2 separate regions of the Homo sapiens genome follow, and region 1 is linked to region 2. The links come from fine-mapping of genetic effects on gene expression. A gene starts in region 2. The other region holds a variant in brackets. All regions are shown on one strand. Distances are from middle to middle.

Region 1 (9,399 bases), 490 kb after region 2:
TCGGGCAGAGGTGCCCCTCACCTCCCAGACGGGGCGGCTGGCCGGGAGGGGGGCTGACCCCCCCACCTCCCTCCCGGACGGGGCTGCTGGCCTGGCGGGGGCTGACCCCCACCTCCCTCCCGGATGGGGTGGCTGCCGGGCGGAGACTCTCCTCACTTCCCAGACGGGGTGGCTACCGGGCGGAGGGGCTCCTCACTTCTCAGACGGGGCGGTTGCCAGGCGGAGGGTCTCCTCACTTCTCAGACGGGGCGGCCGGGCAGAGACGCTCCTCACCTCCCAGACGGGGTCGCGGCCGGGTAGAGGCGCTCCTCACATACCAGACGGGGCGGCGGGGCAGAGGCGCTCCCCACATCTCAGACGGTGGGCGGCCAGGCAGAGACGCTCCTCACTTCCTAGATGGGATGGCGGCCGGGAAGAGGTGCTCCTCACTTCCTAGATGGGATGGCAGCCGGGAAGAGGCGCTCCTCACTTTCCAGACTGGGCAGCCAGGCAGAGGGGCTCCTCACGTCCCAGACGATGGGCGGCCAGGCAGAGATGCTCCTCACTTCCCCGACGGGGTGGTGGCCGGGCAGAGGCTGCAATCTTGGCACTTTGGGAAGCCAAGGCAGGCGGCTGGGAGATGGAGGTTGTAGCGAGCCGAGATCACGCCACTGCACTCCAGCCTGGGCGCCATTGAGCACTGAGTGAACCAGACTCCGTCTGCAATCCCGGCACCTCGGGAGGCCGAGGCTGGCGGATCACTCGCGGTTAGGAGCTGGAGACCGGCCTGGCCAACACAGCGAAATCCCGTCTCCACCAAAAAAATACGAAAACCAGTCAGGCGTGGCGGCGTGTGCCTGCAATGGCAGGCACTTGGCAGGCTGAGGCAGGAGAATCAGGCAGGGAGGTTGCGTGAGCCGAGATGGCAGCAGTACAGTCCAGCTTCGGCTCGGCATCAGAGGGAGACCGTGGAAAGAGAGGGAGAGGGAGACTGTGGAAAGAGAGGGAGAGGGAGACCGTGGGGAGATGGGAGAGGGAGAGGGAGAGGGAGAGGGAGATGGAGAGGGAGCGGGTTGTTTGTTTTCTTATTGTTAAGTTTTAGTTCTTTGTATACCAGCTTTCTTTTCTCTTTTTCTTTTTCTTTCTTTCTTTTCTTTTTTTTCAGACAAGGTCTTGCTCTGTTGCCCAGGCTGGAGTGCAATGGCGCAATCTTAGCTCACTGCCACCTCCGCCTCCCAGGTTCAAGTGATTCTCTTGCTTCAGCCTCCCGAGTAGCTGGGATTACAGGCACCCACCACCATGCCAGGCTAATTTTTGTATTTTTAGTAGAGACAGGGTTTTGCCACGTTGGCCAGGCTGCTCTCAAACTCCTGACCTCAGGTGATCCGCCCACCTCAGCCTCTCAAAATGCTGGGATTACAGATGTGAGCCACCACACCTGGCCTGGATACCAGCTTTTTGTCTGATAGGTGTTTTGAAAAGATTTTCTCACAATCTATAGCTTCTCTTTTTATTCTCTTAAACATCTGATTTTCCTATCACTCCTCTCCATGCAAAATATACATTTTTTGACTGGATCTTGCCAGGGATCTCAGAGTGAGAACAAGAGTCAGACCTGGCCAACCTGAGTACTTCATGACCTTGGTTATGATGTGCAGTAGTTTGGATGTATGTCCCATCCAATTTTTTTTTTTTTTTTTTGAGACAGAGTTTTGCTTTGTCACCCAGGCTGGAGTGCAGTTGCACAATCTTGGCTCAGTGCAACCTCCACCTCCTGGGTTCAAGTGACCCTTCTGCCTCCGCCTCCTGAGTAGCTGGGATTATAGGCACATGCCACGCCCGGCTAATTTTTGTATTTTTAGGAGAGACGGGGTTTCCCCGTGTTGGCCAGGCTGCCTTCTAAATTTCGTTCTTGAAATTGGATCCCCAATGTTGGAGATGGGGTCCTAATGAGAGGTGTTTGGGTCACAGGGGTGGACCCCTCACAAATAGATTAATGCCCTCCCTGGGAGTGTGGGTGAGTGAGTTCTTCCTCCATTAGTTCCCATTAGAGTTGGTTGTTAAAGAGAGGCTGACACTTGCCTCTCTTGCTTCCTCTATTGTCACATGATCCCTGCTTTCTTTCTCCTTCCACCAAGAGTGGAAGTAGCTCTAGACTTTCTCTGTATGCCCAATCTTCCAGCCAGCAGAATCATAAGCCAAATACACCTTTTTCTCTTTATAAATTACCCAGCCTCGTGGATCACTTTAGGTCAGGAGTTCGAGACCAGCCTGGCTAACATGGTGAAACCCTGTCTCTACTAAAAATACAAAAAATTAGCCAGGTGTGGTGGCGGGCACCTGTCATACCAGCTACACTGGAGGCAGGAGAATCACTTGTACCTGGGAGGCGGACATTGTAGTGAGCCAAGATTGCGCCACTGCACTCCAGCCTAGGTGACAGAGCAAGATCCTGTCTCAAAAAAAAAATAATAAAATAAAATAAAAATTACCCAGCGTCAGGTTTTCCTTTATAGCAAGACAACATGGACTAAGACACATGGTTACTATAGAAATGGACATGTGACCCAAGTTGGGCCAATGAGAGCTAACCTTGAGACTTTGGTATCACCATTCAGGAAGGCAGTACCCCTTTTCTGCTAGGTTGTTAAAATGATAAGCTAGGTTGTTAAAATGATAGTATGGAAGCTTCGAGCTGCTGTGGGCCCTGTTTGTCACCGTGAGGGAAGAGATTCTGCCTGAGAGGGAAGTCAAGATACAGAAAAGTAAAGCCCAGATGGGAAATGAGCGGTATTGCTAAAGATTCATTTTAGTGCCTGGATCCAGTTATGCCTGAAGCTAGTTATATAGCTCGGTTCTATAAGTCAACAAATTCCCTTTGTCAAAAACAAAAAAAGCCAGAGTACTTTCCAGAGAGCAAGGCTTATTATAATAATAATTAAAGCAGCATACTCTTGCAAGGAAAAACAAATAGACCAAAAGAACAAGACGGAAAAATCAGGAAAAGTTCACACATATACGGTAACTTGGTTTATGACAAAAGCAACATTTCAGTGCAGTGAGAAGCAAAAGATGATCTTTTTGGATAAATAGGGCTGAGCCAGTTGATAACCATATGACCTCTACCTCACACCATACACAAAAATTGATTCCAGATGTGTTGTAGATCTAAATGTTAAAGCTTAAACAATAAAACTTCTAGAAGAAAATATCATAGAGTATCTTCAGAACCTTCAGGGTAAGAAAATATTTCTTTTATTTACTTGTTTGTGTTAATAGAGATAGGGTCTCGCTATGTTGCCCAGGCTGGTCTCGAACTCCTAGGCTCATATGATCCTCCCTCCTCAGCCTCCCAAAGTGCTGAGATTACAGGCATGAGCCAGTGTGCCTGGCCAGAAAATATTTCTTAAACCAGAAACAAAGGAGCCTTAACTATAAAGGAAAATGTTGATAAATTGGACTATATTAAAATAGAAACTGATCCTCATCAAAAAATACCATTAAGAGAATGAAAAGACAAGCCAGAGAGTGGGAGAAGAATATGTATTCTAACAAAAGACTCATAAGAAAAATAAAGAAATAACTCCTACTAACCTGTTTTTTAAAAAAGGCAGAAAAACCAGTCGAAAAATGGACGAATGGCGTGAATTGACATTTCACAAAGTAGCATGTTCATATGCCCAATAAATATTTGAAACAGTGTTAAATTTCTTTCTTATTTTTTTTTTGAGACGGAGTCTCGCTCTGTCTCCCAGGCTGGAGTGCAGTGGCGTGATCTTGGCTCACTGCAAGCTCCGCCTTCTGGGTTCACGCCATTCTCCTGCCTCAGCCTCCTGAGTAGCTGGGACTACAGGCACCCGCCACTGCGCCCAGCTAATTTTTTGTATTTTTAGTAGAGACGGGGTTTCACCGTGGTCTCGATCTCCTGACCTCGTGATCCACC[C/T]GCCTCGGCCTCCCAAAGTGCTGGGATTATAGGCATGAGCCACTGCGCCTGGCCCAAAACGGTGTTAAATTTCTTTAGGCATTGGGCTAAAGGTAAATTAAAACCATAATAAAACACGGCTACAGCCCCACCAGAATTGCTAAAATTGAAAGGACTAACAATACCAAATGTTGGCGAGCAGCTGAAATTCTCAGAGACTGCTGGCGGGTGTATAAATGGAGAAAATTAGTTTGAAAACCTGGTTGGCAGTGTCTATTAAGGATGAACATGAAGCTGGGAATGGTGACTCATGCCTGTAATTCCAACACTTTGGGAGGCGGCGGATCACTTGAGGTCACGACCAGCCTGGCCACTCCCATCTCAAAAAAAAAAAAAAAAAGAGGAACATGCCCACACCATGCATACACCCTGGGACCCAGCAATTACACTTCTAGGTATATACCCAACAGAAATACAGAAATGCCTACATATGTTCACCAAAATTCAATGTATATAGCAGTACTGTAAGTGATCATGCCAAATCAGAAGGCACCTAAATGTCAATCAACAGTAGAATGGATACATAGATTATTATGTATTCCCATAACACACTTTTTTTTTTGAGACAAGATTGTCCTCTGTCACCCAGGCTGTAGTGCAGTGGTGTGATCTCAGCTCACTGCAATTTCTGCCTCCCAAGCTCAAGCCATCCTCCCACCTCAGCTTCCCAAGTAGCTGAGATGATAGGCACGCACCACCACACCCCACTAATTTTTGTATTTTTTTTGTAGAGACGGGGTCTTGCTATGTTGCTCAGGCTGGTCTTGAACTCCTGTGCTCAAGATATCTGCTTGCCTCACCCTCCTAAAGTGCTAGGATTATAGGCATGAGCCACCGTGCCTGGCTCATAACACACTCTTATACAGCAATGATAATGAACAACCTCCAACAATCAGCAACTACATGGACAAATCTCATAGACGTATGATGAATAAAACAATTCAGGCCAGGTGCAATGGCTCACGCCTGTAATTCCAACACTTTGGGAGGCCGAGATGGGCAGATCACGAGGTCAAGAAATAGAAACCATCCTGGCCAACATGGTGAAACCCTGTCTCTACTAAAAATACAAAAAATTAGCTGGGTGTGGTAGTGCGCACCTGTAATCCCAGCTACTCAGGAGGCTGAGGCAGGAGAATCGTTTGAACCTGGGAGGCGAAGGTTGCAGTGAGCTGAGATCATGCCACTGCACTCCAGCCTGGTGACAGAGCGACTCTCCGTCTCAAAAAAAAAAAAAAAAAAAAAAAAGAATTCCAACACACAAGTCTCTATGCTTGTAGGATTCCAAGCAGATTAAGATCAAAAACAAGGCAAACTGACTTATGGTGTCAGAAATCAGGGTAGTAGTTACCTTTGAGGTGAAGAAGTGACTGACAAGGGGCCGGGCGCGGTGGCTCACGCCTGTAATCCCAGCACTTTGGGAGGCCGAGGTGGGCAGATCATGAGGTCAGGAGATCGAGACCATCCTGGCTAACACGGTGAAACCCCGTCTCTACTAAAAATACAAAAAAATTAGCCAGGCATAGTGGCAGGCGCCTGTAGTCCCGGCTACTCGGGAGGCCGAGGCAGGAGAATGGCGTGAACCCAGGAGGCGGAGCTTGCAGTGAGCCGAGATAGCGCCACTGCACTCCAGGCGAGACTCTGTCTCAAAAAAAAAAAAAAAACACAAAAAAGTGACTGACAAGGAGCATGAGGGGTTTGGAGAGCTGGTAATGTTCTAGTTCCTGACCCAGGGCTGGTTACCCATGGTTACATGGTGTGCTCAGTCTGTCATCTGATCCATACTTACTGGGTATTTGTGAGTTTCTTTGTGAGTATGTTGTACTTCAATAATTTTTTTTTTGAAACTGGGTCTCTGTCGTCCAGACTGGACTGCAGTGGCTCAACCATGGCTCACTGCAGCCTTGACCTCCTGGGCTCAAGCGATCCTCCCACCTTAGCCTCTTGAGTAGCTGGGACTACAGGTGCACACCATGGCACTTGGCTATATATATATATATATATATATATATTTTTTTTTTTTTTTTTTTAAAGAGATGGAGTCTTGCTATGTTGCCAAGGCTGGGTCTCGAACTCCTGGGCTCTAGTGATCCTCCAATCTTAGCCTCTCAAAGTGCTGGAATTACAGGCATGAGCCACCGAGCTTGGCAATAATTTTTTAAAAGGCCGGTTTTTTGTCTCTTGAAAGTGCAGGAGTCTTGGCAAGTCTAGCAAATGGCATATACTATTTTGTTTCTCTTCCCTCCCCTTTCAAGTGAGAATTGTGATTGTTTTCTTGTTTTTCCTCCACTGTTATACACAGGGGTGGGTTGCTGAGGGGGCTACAATTTCATTTAACATTAATTTTTTTTTTAGATGGAGTCTTGCTCTGTCACCAGGCTGGAGTGCAGTGGCACAATCTCCACTGACTGCAACCTCCGCCTCCCAGGTTCAAGTGATTCTTCTGCCTCGGCCTCCCGAGTAGCTGGGATTATAGGTGTGTGCCACCATGCCGGGCTAATTTTTGTACTTTTAGTAGAGACAGGGTTTCACCATGCTGGCCAGGCTGGTCTTGAACTCCTGACCTCAGGTGATCCACTTGCCTTGGCCTCCCAAAGTGCTGGGATTACAGGTGTGAGCTACCGTGCCCAGCCTTAACATTAATTTTCAGGATCAAGAGAGACTCCATGTGCCCTTGATGAAAGGAATAGCCAATATCCAGAAATCTTGGTCTGAGGATTGGATGTGGCTTTGGGATCCCTCCCTTTGCAGAAGGGGTGAAAGCTTCTGCAGTTGCACTAGAGATAGTTATGTTAGGTGGGAGTATTAGTTTTAGCCAACTTTATCAAAATATAATTTGTGTACAAGAAAATGGATCAATATTTCAAAAAGATATTTGCAACCCACTTTCATAGCAGCATTATTTACAATACCCAAAAGGTAAAGGAGGCAACCCAGCTGTTCATCAACAAATAAATGGTTCGACAAAATGTGGTATATACACATAATGGATTTTTTTTTTGAGATGGAGTCTCGCTCTGTCGCCCAGGCTAGAGTGCAGTGGTGCGATCTTGGCTCACTGCAACCTCCGCCTCCCAGGTTTAAGTGATTCCCCTGCCTCAGCCTCCCAAGTAGCTGGGACTACAGGCGCCTGCCACCACGCCCGGCTAATTTTTTGTAGTTTAGTAGAGATGGGGTTTCACCATGTTGACCAGGATGGTCTCGATTTCCTGACCTCGTGATCCGCCTGCCTCTTCCTCCCAAAGTGCTGGGATTACAGGTGTGAGCCACTGCACCAGGCCCATAATGGAAAATTATTTAACCTTAAAAAGGAAGGAAATGCTAACACATGCTACAACATGGGTGAAGCCTGAGGACATTCATGCTAAGTGAAACAATCCCATCACAAAAAGACAGATGCTGTATGATTCCACTTACATGAGGTACCTAGAGTAGTCAAATTCATAGGGAATTTCCCAGAGAGTAGAACGTGCTTCCCAGGGGCTGGGAAGGGAAGGCAGTGGGAGTTGCTTGATGGGAACAGTTTCAATTCTACAAGAGGAAAGAGTGGAGATGAGTAGGGGTGATGATTGCACAACAATGCAACTGTACACTTAAAATTGGCTAAGTCCTGGGAAAGTGGCTCATGCCTGTAATCTCAGCTACTCTGGAAGCTGAGGCAGGAGAATCGCTTGAACCGGGGAAGCAGAGGTTGCAGTGAGCCAAGACCATGCCATTGCACTCCAGCCTGGGCATTGCAGCGAGACTCCGTCTCAAAAAAAAAAAAAATTGGCTAAGATGGTAAAGTTTGTGTTATGTGTATTTTGCAACAATGTACAAGAATTTAAATGAACCAATTTTAAACGCAATGAATTTTGACAAATGTATTCGGTTGTGTGATCACTTCCATCATCCGGAAAGTTTTCCTGTGTCCACTAGTAATCAGTCTCTCCATAACCACTGCCACTGCCCCCAGTCAACCACTAATCCATTTTCTGCCCCTGCGTATTAGCCTTTTCTTTTCTCTTTTCTTCTCTTCTCTTCTTTTCTTTTCTTTTACTCTGTCACCCAGGCTGGAGTTCAGTGGTGTGATCTCAGCTCACTACAACCTCCGCCTCCCAGGTTCAAGCCATTCTCCTGCCTCAGCCTTCCAAGTAGCTGGGATTACAGGCACTCGCTACCACACCCGGTTAATTTTTGTATTTTTAGTAGAGATGGGGTTTTACCATGTTGGCCAGGCTGGTCTTGAACTCCTGACCTCGTGATCCACCTGCCTCGGCCTCCCAAAGTGCTGGGATTACAGGGTGAGCCACCGTGCCTGGCCTCTGGCCCCTTTCTTTCTTTCTTTCTTTCTTTCTTTCTTTCTTTCTTTCTTTCTTTCTTTCTTTCTTTCTTTGTGTCTCTCTCTCCTTCCTTCCTTCTCTCTCTCTCTCTCTCTTTCTTTCTTTCTCTCTTTCTTTTTTGAGTTGGAGTCTCACTCTGTTGCCCAGGCTGGAGTGCAGTGGCATGATCGGCCCACTGCAACCTCCGCCTCCCGATTCTCCTACTCAGCCTCCCAGGTAGCTGGGATTACAGGTGCCAGGCTGCTTTTGAACTCCTGATCTCAAGTAATCCGCCTGCCTCAGCCTCCCAAAGTGCTAGGATTACAGGCGTGAGCCACCATGCCCCGCCCATATTAGTGTTTTCTTTCTACAATTTCACAAAAGTGGAATCCTACAGCATATACCCTTGTATCTGGCTGTATCACACGGCATCATGTTTTTGAGATGCAGGGCAGCAGTGCCATCACAGCTCACTGCAGCCTCAAACTCCTGGGCTCAAGTGATCCTCCTGCCTCAGCCACCAGAGTAGCTGGGACTACAGGTGAGCACCATCATGCCTGGATAATTTTACTATTATTATTATTACTACTATTAGTTGTAGAGACAGGGTCTTGCTATGCTGCCCAGGCTGGTCTCGAACTCCTGAGCTCGAGCAATACTCCCACCTCGACCTCCAAAGTAGCTGGAACTACAAGTGAACATCACCATGCCCGGCCAATTTTTTTTTTTTTTTTTTAAGAGAATCTCACCATATTACCTGGTCTCAAACTCCTGGGCTTGAGCAATCCTCCTGCCTCAGCCTCCCAAAGTGCTGGGATTTACAGGCATGAGCCACTGTGCCTGGTGGTTACTACCACATTGACTTCAGACTTCTGGCCTCCAGAGCTGTGAGAGAATAAATTTCTGTTGTTTTCAGCTAGGTTATTGTAACCTGTTACATCAGTCCTAGCAAACTGACACAGTGATTGGACCAATTTTTGCAGTGGGAGTTTTTGAAATGTTGTGTCCCGGAATGTAGATGTGAATTAGTGTGAAGTAGCTGAGGGTAGAATGTAGTGGACACCTACTGCTTTGAGGGACTGTCCCTTGCCCATTGCCGTGTGATTCATTTGGAACTGTCAGTCAAGGGACCCCTAC
Region 2 (9,399 bases):
AATAAATAAATAAAGTCACTAATGGCATTCATGAGGGCTCTATCCTTGCAACTTAATCACCTCATAAAGGACCCACCTGTTAATACTGTCACATTGGCAATTAAGTTTCAACATAGGAATTTTGGGGGAACATATTCAGATCATAGCAGTTAGTGATGGTCAGAATTGGGGCTAAGGGCCTGGGTACAGCAGCTCATGCCTGTAAACCCAGAACTTTGGGAGGCTGAGGCAGGCGATCACCTGAAGCCAGGAGTTCAAGACCAGTCTGGCCGACATGGTGAAACCCCCATCTCTACTAAAAATACAAAACTTAGCCGGGCATGGTTGTGCACGCCTGTAGTCCCAGCTACTCGGAGGCTGAGGCACGAGAATGGGAGGTGGAGGTTGCGGTGAGCCAACATCGCACCACTGCACTCCAGCCTGGGTGACAGAGCGAGGCCCTGTCTCAAAAAAAATAAAAAAGGAGAATTGGGGTAAGGCATAAGGCCAAGCAGCTTAGCACCCATGGTGGTGCGAGCCACCTTCCCATAGCTTCCTATCATGGGTGGCAGTCTTGTTATATCACAGCCCAGGTGAAAGGTGCCTGGGAGTTGTCCAGTGCAACTGTGTGGAACTAAATAACAGGAACATCTGAGTGGCTGTGATTCCTTTAGCCATTGTCCCCCATGAGTCCCACTTTGAGAGATTTTTCTGAGCAAACCAAACTACATTAAGTGAAAAGTTCATTCATTTTCCCATATTTTATTTATCAAAGGTATACCAAACTGCCGATCATAGCTTCTGATTGGGGTGAGACAGGCAGTGAACACACTGAGTGGATAATTTTTTTTACAGCCTGAAGCAAAGAAATTTGAAATTTAACCTCTGAAATCCCATCCCGAAGGAAATGTACAACTTCCATTTTTTTTTTGTCTGTTTTTGTTTTTTGGTTTTATTTTTTGAAATGGTGAAAATACCTTTGAGCACTCATTACTGTGGAGGGTCACTGTCCCTGTCTCTTACCTAATACCATTTCTGGGACATCAGAGTCCCCAATCCATGTTGACAACATGAATCAAAACTGAGGATCAGTGTTCCAGTTGCTCAGGACAGTCACCTGAGTGGGAGATTAGAGTTAAGCCTTAGGGCAAGGTTTAGGGGACAGTGGGAAGCGTTAAGATTTGGTTTTGTGTTTGAGCCAAACCTGGGGCCGCATCCTCATCTTTTTCCACTCTGCTTCTCTTCTTCCTCCACGCCACACCTATCTGGCTCCCATCTCTCAAACGGGCCCGGCTTGCTGCCATCTGGGGGCCTCTGCCCCAGGTGCTTGCCCCTGTGCACGCAATGAGCTATCTCCTTATTTTGGCCTCGCCACAAAAGACACCTCCTCCAGGAGGCCTCCCCTGATCACCTCAAGTCTGTCCTCCTGACCGCCCACCAACTTCTCTCCTCCCTAATTGTCCTCTTATTTTCTTCATTGCTCACACTGCTCTTGGAAATAGGACCTTGAGGGGTCAGTTCCACGGGGACAGGGGCTGTCTCCTTACTGTTCTCCGGCCGGGCTCTCAAAGCCCTGAACAGTGCCCGGTGCTGAAGACCCTTGATGAGCTCTGGAGGTTGACGGCAAATCATTTCTCCTTCAGTAAAACAGGGGCAGTCATACCCTCCAGGCAGGGCTGAGACTTAGGCTGCATGGACCAAGAGGGTTCGCTGGTTGTTCAAATATTGGAATACTTCCCTGCTTCTCTAACGGCCCCACCTGACACGGCTTGGCCTCTCACCTGAGACCCTCTTGGTTTGTTTTTTGAGACTGAGTTTCGCTCTGTCACCCAGGCTGGAGTGCAATAACGTGATCTCGGCTCACTGCAACCTCTGGAGGCCTCCCGAGTTCAAGTGATTCTCGTGCCTCAGCCTCCCGAGTAGCTGGGATTACAGGCGCGCACCACCATGCCTGGCTAATTTTTGTATTTTTAGTAGAGATGGGGTTTCACCATGTTGGCCAGGCTGGTCTCGAACTCCCGACCTCAAGTGATCCTCCCGCCTCGGCCTCACAAAGTGCTGGGATTACAGGTGCGAGCCACCATGCCCGGCCGAGACCCTCTTGTAATGAAAGGGTTAACTCAGGGCTCATCAGGGGCCTGCTCTCACCTGTGCCCACCAGGTACCACCATCCCTAGGAGTTGGTACCGCATGGTTGCAGGATTGATGCCACGCTTGTGAGGTGCTGGGCACAGCATCTGGCCTGTGGGAGACCAGGAGGAACCGCGGGCTGCCACCATGTGATTCTGTTTTGCTGGTATCACCATCGGTCCTGGCCTACTCTGTGCTGGACCCTGGTGCACACACACATTCACTGGTCCAGTCTCACGAACTAGACTTGAGCGGCGCCAGGGGCGGGTGAAACCCGAAGCACCACAGCCACCTGCCACTCCCTGGCCCTCGCCCAGCCCCTTCTCAGTTTCCCCTCTCGGCAGCTCTCAGGGCTCAGCACCCACCAGCGCCCACCCAAAACCGCCTCTTCCGAACCCATCTGTGACCTGGCTTCTCTCGGGAACCCTGGCTCATTATAGATGTGTCTGGCCCACTTTCCTTCCAGCTTCCAACCCTGACTCTCCCCAGGCTCTGCCTGCAGGGGTACAGCCACACTTTCCCTCCCTGGGGCTCTCCGAGGAGAAGGGGAAGAGGGAGAGTCTGTCCCGGGTCCCCTGGCACTGAAAGAAGGAACCTTCATCTTTCTTCTCTCTCTCCTGAGTCCTCAGTTATTAGTCAGCGTTTTGGGGGATAACAAGGCAGGGGTGAAACTTCTGTGCTAATTTTAACATCTGGAAGGATCTTCAGTGTCCTGGACAGGGGCCACCCCTCCTTCTGGGTTTCTCCGCCCCTGATTCCCGATGTCCCCCTTCCTTGGGGCCCAAGCTTTTGGGGTAGTGGACCGGGGAGGTAGAGGGGAGGGTCACGGTGACCTCCCAGAGGCCTCTGCATCTGCCCTCCCCCTCCCTGCACCCAAGATGCAGCTCAGCTTCACAGCTCTAAATGCGTCCCCAGCACCCGCTGCCAACACCTGGGGGAGGTGAGAGGAGAGTGAGTAGGGAGGCTGCAGGCTGTGCCCTCTGCCCCTCCCAGGTGCCTCCACCTGCCAAGTCTGGACCAGGGACGAAAGCTAGGAACTGACCCATTCTCCATCTCCCTCAGGGTACCCCCAGCCCAAGACTGCATTCAAACCCCATCCTGGCTCCTCCAAGAGCTCAGTGGTCTCTTCTGGAAAATGGGTTTGAAGGTTCTTCTCTTCATGAGGTGGAGGGGCGGACGAAGCGGGCATACAGCGGAGTTCAAGAAAGGCCCTCTGTCCCCTCCCCCACTCTGTCTACTCCCCGGGCTCTTGCCACCCAGTCTTGGGCCCTCAAAGCTCCAGCTCCCCAGCTTCTCTCCTCTCCCCCGAGATCTTTCTCCTCCCCCCTCCCCCCGACGGGTCCTTCCCTCCCTCTTCCATCCTCTCATCTCTGTCCCACTTAGATCCTCCTGCCTCTTCCGGGTCCTGCCAGCTTCCCCTGCTCTTCCTGACAACGCACACCGCACCCCCCATTCTTCTCCCCACAGCCCCCGCCGCCCTCCAGGCCCCTCTGTCCCCTGCAGCCCTCAAAGTTAGGCCTTCCCTACCTCCTCTTTCCCCTCACTTCCCTGCCCCTGGGCCTCTCCTGCCCATCTCTCTACCCATCTCCCCCTCCACTCCTCCTCTCCCTCCTTTCCTCTTCCTCTACCCACTCCCCCTGCCCCCCGCCCTCCCCTCCCCTTCATCCAGGACCTTATTGCAGGAGTTACCCCCTCCTCTCCCCTCCCCTCCCACACCCTCTCCCCTTTCCCTCCTCTCTCCCCTGCTCCTCCCCTTTTTCTCCCCCTCTTCTTTCTTCCACCCCCTTCCCACTTCCTTCCTTCTTTCCTCCCCTTCCCTCTTCTTTCCTCCCCCCCTTCCCCTTCCCTCCCGTCTCCCTCTCCTTTCTTCCCTCCCTCTCCCATCCTCTCCGGTTCTTCCCCCCTCTTTCCTTCCTCCCTCTCCACGCTGCCCTCCCTCCCCTCCCTCTCTCCCCCCTTCCTCTCCTCCCGGGCCTCCCTCCCTGCTCCCTCCCTCCGCCCGCCCGCTCCCACCATCATCAGTATTCCGCTCCCGTCTCCGCCGCTCTCGGCTGCTCTCGGTCGCTGCCGCACCGTCCGAGGCGGGGGCCGGGGCCGGGGCCGGGGCCTGGGGGGGGGTGGGGTGGGGGGAGAGCGGCGCCGGCGGGCCCGAGGAGGGAGGAAGGAAGGAAGGAAGGCTGGAAGGAAGGAAGCCAGGAAAGAAAGAAGGAAAGAAAGGAAGGCAAGAAGGAAGGCGGGCGGCGGGCGAGGGCGCGGGGCCGGACGGCAGGCGGGCGCGAGGCGAGGAGGCAGAGCGGCCCCCCCAGCCCCACCGCCGCCGCTGCGGAAGCCCCCTCCCCACCCAGGAGCCGGGGAGGGGGGAGAGCGCGAGAGGCTCCAGGCCCGGCCGCAGCCCCGCCCCCCGCGCCTCCCCGCAGCGGGCCTTGCACCCCAAATTCCTGAGCCTCATTGGGGGGGTCCTCCCCCCACGGGCCGGGCATGCTGCCCCCCGGAAGGAACCCCTCTCCTCGCTGTGAGTAGCCGCCAAGGGGCACGGGTCGGGGGCGGGGGCCGGAGGCGGAACCGCGGGGGGTGGGTGGGGGGCATTCGCTAATTGGGGGACAGTGGTCTTAGGCCTCCTCCGGGATGGGGGGGGATGGCAGAGGACAGGGGGCGGGGCCTAATGGGAGGCAGAAGCCGGTGGGGGAGGCGACTGGGTGGGGGTTCTCCGGGCAGGGCGAGTTCTGTGCTGTGGGGGGGGTGGTTGTCGCCGCTGCCTGGGGACAGGTTGTGGGGGGTGCGTCCGGCGGTCGCTGCGTATCCAGCTGTGGGGCTGAGGAAGTAGGCTTAGGGTGGGGGGCTCTCCGGGCGTAGGTCCGGGCCCCCCTTTCTGGGGCGGGAGTCCAGGTTCTTCCTCTCCCCATGGCCCCTCCCACCCTCCACACCGCTGCTGCTTGGGGTGGGGGGGGCACGCCAGTGATGGGGAGGGGGGAGAGGCGGGCACGGGGTTTCCTTGGTGACCGCGCCTGGCAAGAGCGGTTGCCGTGGCAACCGGGGAGAACCGGGGAGTTTGGGAAGTGAAAATGGGAAAGACGGAGGGGGTGATTGGGGAGTGAGACAACCCCCTCCCCAGTCTTCAGCCCTTCTCCCTCTGGGGTCACCCCGCCTCTCCTGGTGGGCGGCTCGGACCCCTGCCCCTCCGTCTCTCCAAGACCCCCGTTCCCTGACCCCACTAGGCTTTGGGGCCTTCTATCCTTGGGCACGTGTCTCTCCAGGACCACTGCCTCTCCCACCTCCCTCCGCCCTCCCCTCCTGGAAACCTCTCCTCCTGGAGACCCCCGCCCCCCATTTGCTGCCTCCTCCCCAGGCTTCCGACCCTCACACCTGCTCTTCTAGGACCTTCTAAGACACGGCATCTGCTCCTCAGCCTTCTCTAACCCCCATCTCTGACAATCCCCCAGATATCCCTCTCCAGACCTTCTGTCCAGGAGACCCTCACTTCAGCCGCCCTCTCCTCTAGCTCCCTCCTCCCACTCCCTCCCCGCCCCTCTTTGGGCCTTGCACCCCAGCCTCTCCCCTTTCTCCCCAACACCCCCAGTCGCCTTCTCCTTAGCCCATCACTCTCTGAAACATCCTTCTATGACCTTTCATCACCCAGAGACCCCCTCCATCGTTGTCTCCTCACCCCATAGTACTCCCCAGTCTCAGACCCCCCCAATCCTAGCTCTCTCCTTTTGGGAGCCTCTCCTTCCAACTCACCATCAATCCCGGGCTCTCAGGGTTCCCCCCATCTCTATGCCCCTGCCTCCCTGGGGTCCTGTCCTGCCAGGGGCCCAGCCAGTCTCTCTCCAGGACTCGAGTCTCCAGAGCCCAGGATGGCCTCTTGCCCACCCCTCCACCCCTTCGCCTCCTCTCTGCACCCCCATCTCCTTCCCCAGACCTCCTCACCTCTGCTCTCCTCCTAGGCGCCCTCCCCTCCTCCCTGCCCCCTCCCCGCAGCCTCTGGTGACTTTCTGTCGGGGTGGGGAATTCCCCTGGGGAGAGCCCAGCTGGGAAGGGGGAGGGGGAAGGGAGCCTCGGGGCTGCCCCTCGGCCCCCTCCCCGCCCCCCTCTCCAGCTGGGAGCTGCAGTGGCGCCTCCGCAGCGCCCCATTGCTATGCGCCTCACATCCCAAGTCCCGGCCGCGCAGCCGCCAGACAGGAACTCGGGCTCCAGGCAGCTGGGAGTAGCCGGAGCCGGCTTCCCTCCTGGTCCAGGAGCCTGAAAACTCCCGCCCCCCACCCCCGGACCGCGGCCAGGACCGCACCTCCCTCTTCCTGTAGCATCTTCCGCAGCCTTCGCCTTCTAACCTGCCTTTCCGCAGCCTCCACTTCGCCTTCCCACCTTCCTCCTCCTCCTCCTCCCTGGGGCTCCTCTCCTCCTGGCCACCGGATTGTCCAAACGCACACAGAGAAATGAGGGACAGAGAGTGAAGCCGCCGAAAGGCGGGGAGAGAGACCCAAGGAAGGGAAGAGTGGGAGCCAGGGAGGGAGGCACAGAGGGAGAGAAGGGACCCAGCCTCCGAAACACACATACAGGCAATTAGGGCATCAGCACGGAGTCACGGAGTTACTCACTTAATTTCCGAAAGAAAGAGTCGGGGAGCCGGGGACACACGCCACTCCCACCCAGAGAGCAGACACGCGGGTGAGGCAGAGACGCAGGGAGCCACAGACTCAGGGAGGGTGGGACAGACCCGCGGGGTGCCTGCTGGGGCCAGCAGGGAGCCGGGGGACACTGGCCACCAGAGTTCTGGGGGATTAGAGGCCGCTTCTGACTTGTCAGAGGGACCCCAAGTCAGCAAGTCAGCGACAGAGAGTGGGAGCGTGCGAGGAAGACACGGGGCACGTGGAGGCAAAGATTCCCCTGGCAGGTACACACACACACACACACACACACACACACACACACGAGAGCACACAGTCATTCACTGGCAGCCAGAGACCCCGATATGGAACCAGAGAGGCCCAGTTGCAGACGCAGCCCCCACACTCAGTCAGCCAGTGGTCAGGAGAGACAGGGAGCAGTCCCCAGACCTGTAGTCGTGTGTCACACAGAGACACACACAGTCCTTCGTACACAGACCTGGAGGGAGAGACAAAGGCAGGAGGCCCTTGCCTTGTGGTCCTGTGGCCTCGTGGCCTCACGCCTACGGACAGACACAAGGCAAAAGGCACGGAGGTGGCCCCAGAGCTACAGAGATGCAGCCCCAGGTGCCGCTAAGACAGTCACAGAGCTGTGCACTGTGGCGCACACACCAAACCGAGTGCCAGCGTCGGAGGCACGTGTGTGCACTGCAGGGAGGGCCAGCCCCATCCAGCAGTCACCCTTAATCCCACTCAGAGACAGCCCTGAGAGTGTTCCTCTCGCCACGGGGCTCCTCAGGGACCTCCTCGCCGTCCGAGAGGTCAGCAGAATTAAGACATCAGGTATCAGAGGGCGCTGGCATCTCTCACAAGCAGAGCCTGTGCACACATGTGCCTGCACACACACCCTCAGGGCCCATGCAGAGAGGCCGATCTTCAGGCAGAGGTGCTGTGGGTTGGGGATTGGGGGCGGGGGTGGCCGCTGAATCCTCAGTCCCTTCCGGAACCCTGGCCCTGCTTTCTTGCCAGGGTCCCCACCCCCTCAATCACCTGTCTCACCTGCTAGGACACCTGCTGTGTAGCTCACACTGGTTCTCTCTCTCCATCCTCTCTCCCTGCATTTCATCCCTTCTCACCCCACTCTCTCTGGCCGGGCATCTGTCTCGAGGTGTCACCTGGACCTCCTGTCTCTGTCAAGCCGTCTCGCCTCTCCATCTCCCCTCATCTTCCCTGGGACTGACCCTTTGCCCTCCCAGCCCCCAATGTCTTGCTGACCTGGCCCATCCGTCTAGTCTGTGGACTCATTCATCAGTCTTTCCCTCTCCCACCCCATCTGCTGTGAAACCTGCCTCTATTTCTGTCTCTGCTCGACACCGCTCTCTGTGCCTCCCTTCTTTGTCCCTCTGTGTCACTCGCCCTCACCTCTGCTGCTGTTCCTGCCAGCCTGTCTGCCTCCCCGCCTCCCCTGCTCCTTCCCCGTGGCTCCCTCTCCCCACATCCCTGAGGACTCACTTACCTGGGGTCCTCCGGGCGGCCCAAGAGGGTTATTTTCCCCCAGTGCTTTCAACATGTTTAATTTGTTGCCAACATTTTTTAAATTAGAGATTTTGCATAAAAATCTAGACTGTCAGCTTTTGGAATCGTCTTCCCCCTGGATAACTGTGGGTTGTGCTCAGGTGCAAAGGGCCACCACTCCCCACTCTCCCCTCTAACCAGCATCGGGATCATCTTCCCTGCTGGGCTCCATAGACAGAGGAGTTTGCAACCTCTGCTGTTTGCTCCTCTTCCTCTCTGCTCCATCTCTTTGTGCCCTGTCACCCTCTCCACTCTCCTTCCCTTGGTTTCCCTTGCCGGGTCCTCTCTCTGCCCCTCCTCCTTCATCCCCCCATCAGTTTGCCCTAACTCCAAGCCTCACTTTGACTGGGCCCTGTTTCCACTTAAATGGCCTCCTTCCCTTGCCGAGAGCAGGAAGAGTCTTATCCTTCTCTGGGAGAAGTGGTTCTTAAGACTGCCAGGACGCAGAGCACACGCCCATTCTCCAGGACCAGGATCTGCTGTGAAACTGCCAGCCCCTCACAGTGTTGGAAAGTCAGCGTTGCGTGAAGGCACCATGTTGCAGCCTGTCCTTCTCAGCTGGCTGATGGCTGGGGTGGGCCACAGACCCCACACTCTTGTCCCCAGCATGTGGCATCACAGCCCGTAGGCAGGGGGTGGGCTTCTCTGTACACCAGGCTGCACATTTGGCCCCAGAGCAGGTGGAGAGCAGGGGCTGCCTTAGAGGACCTGGGATGCGGACGCTGTTTCTGGAGGGAGGGCCTCACCTCCAGATAGGGGTGCAAAGGACAGGGCTCCCCTCTGTGCCTGGCAGCGCTCAAGCCCAGCAGCATCCCCTCCACCATCACCCTTGCTGGGTGAAGGGGGCACGTCTTTGTGTCCTCTCTGGTGGGGTACGGGAAACCTCATTAACTCTGAGTTTGGAGACCCTTTGTCCCCACTGGGGAGAACCTCCCTTCCCTTCGAGTCCCAGTTCCTGAGGCTGGGCTGGCTCCGCCAGACAGGGGGTGGCAGGAGAGTAAGGAGAGTGGCAGGATGCCCCTTGTTGCCTGGAAACCCACGCGCAACTGTTGTCATGGCAGGCAGAGGTGGAGGGGCTGCCTTGGAGACCCACGAGAGGGGCTGATGGGGG

What was found.
Region 1: its variant is fine-mapped to the expression of LRRC4B in prostate (GTEx, PIP above 0.99). The same link has a PIP of 0.9 or more in aorta.

The regions. Positions count from the first base shown.
Region 1 is chr19:50,077,335-50,086,733 of GRCh38, reverse strand. No RefSeq gene overlaps it. Among named protein-coding and RNA genes, the nearest start is that of SNAR-A4, 11 kb to the left of the region's middle. The variant C/T (reference allele first, on the strand shown) is at 3,923.
Region 2 is chr19:50,563,166-50,572,564 of GRCh38, reverse strand. It overlaps LRRC4B (leucine rich repeat containing 4B), which reads left to right and starts at 4,130. Exons shown (of 3, transcript NM_001080457.2): 1 at 4,130-4,621.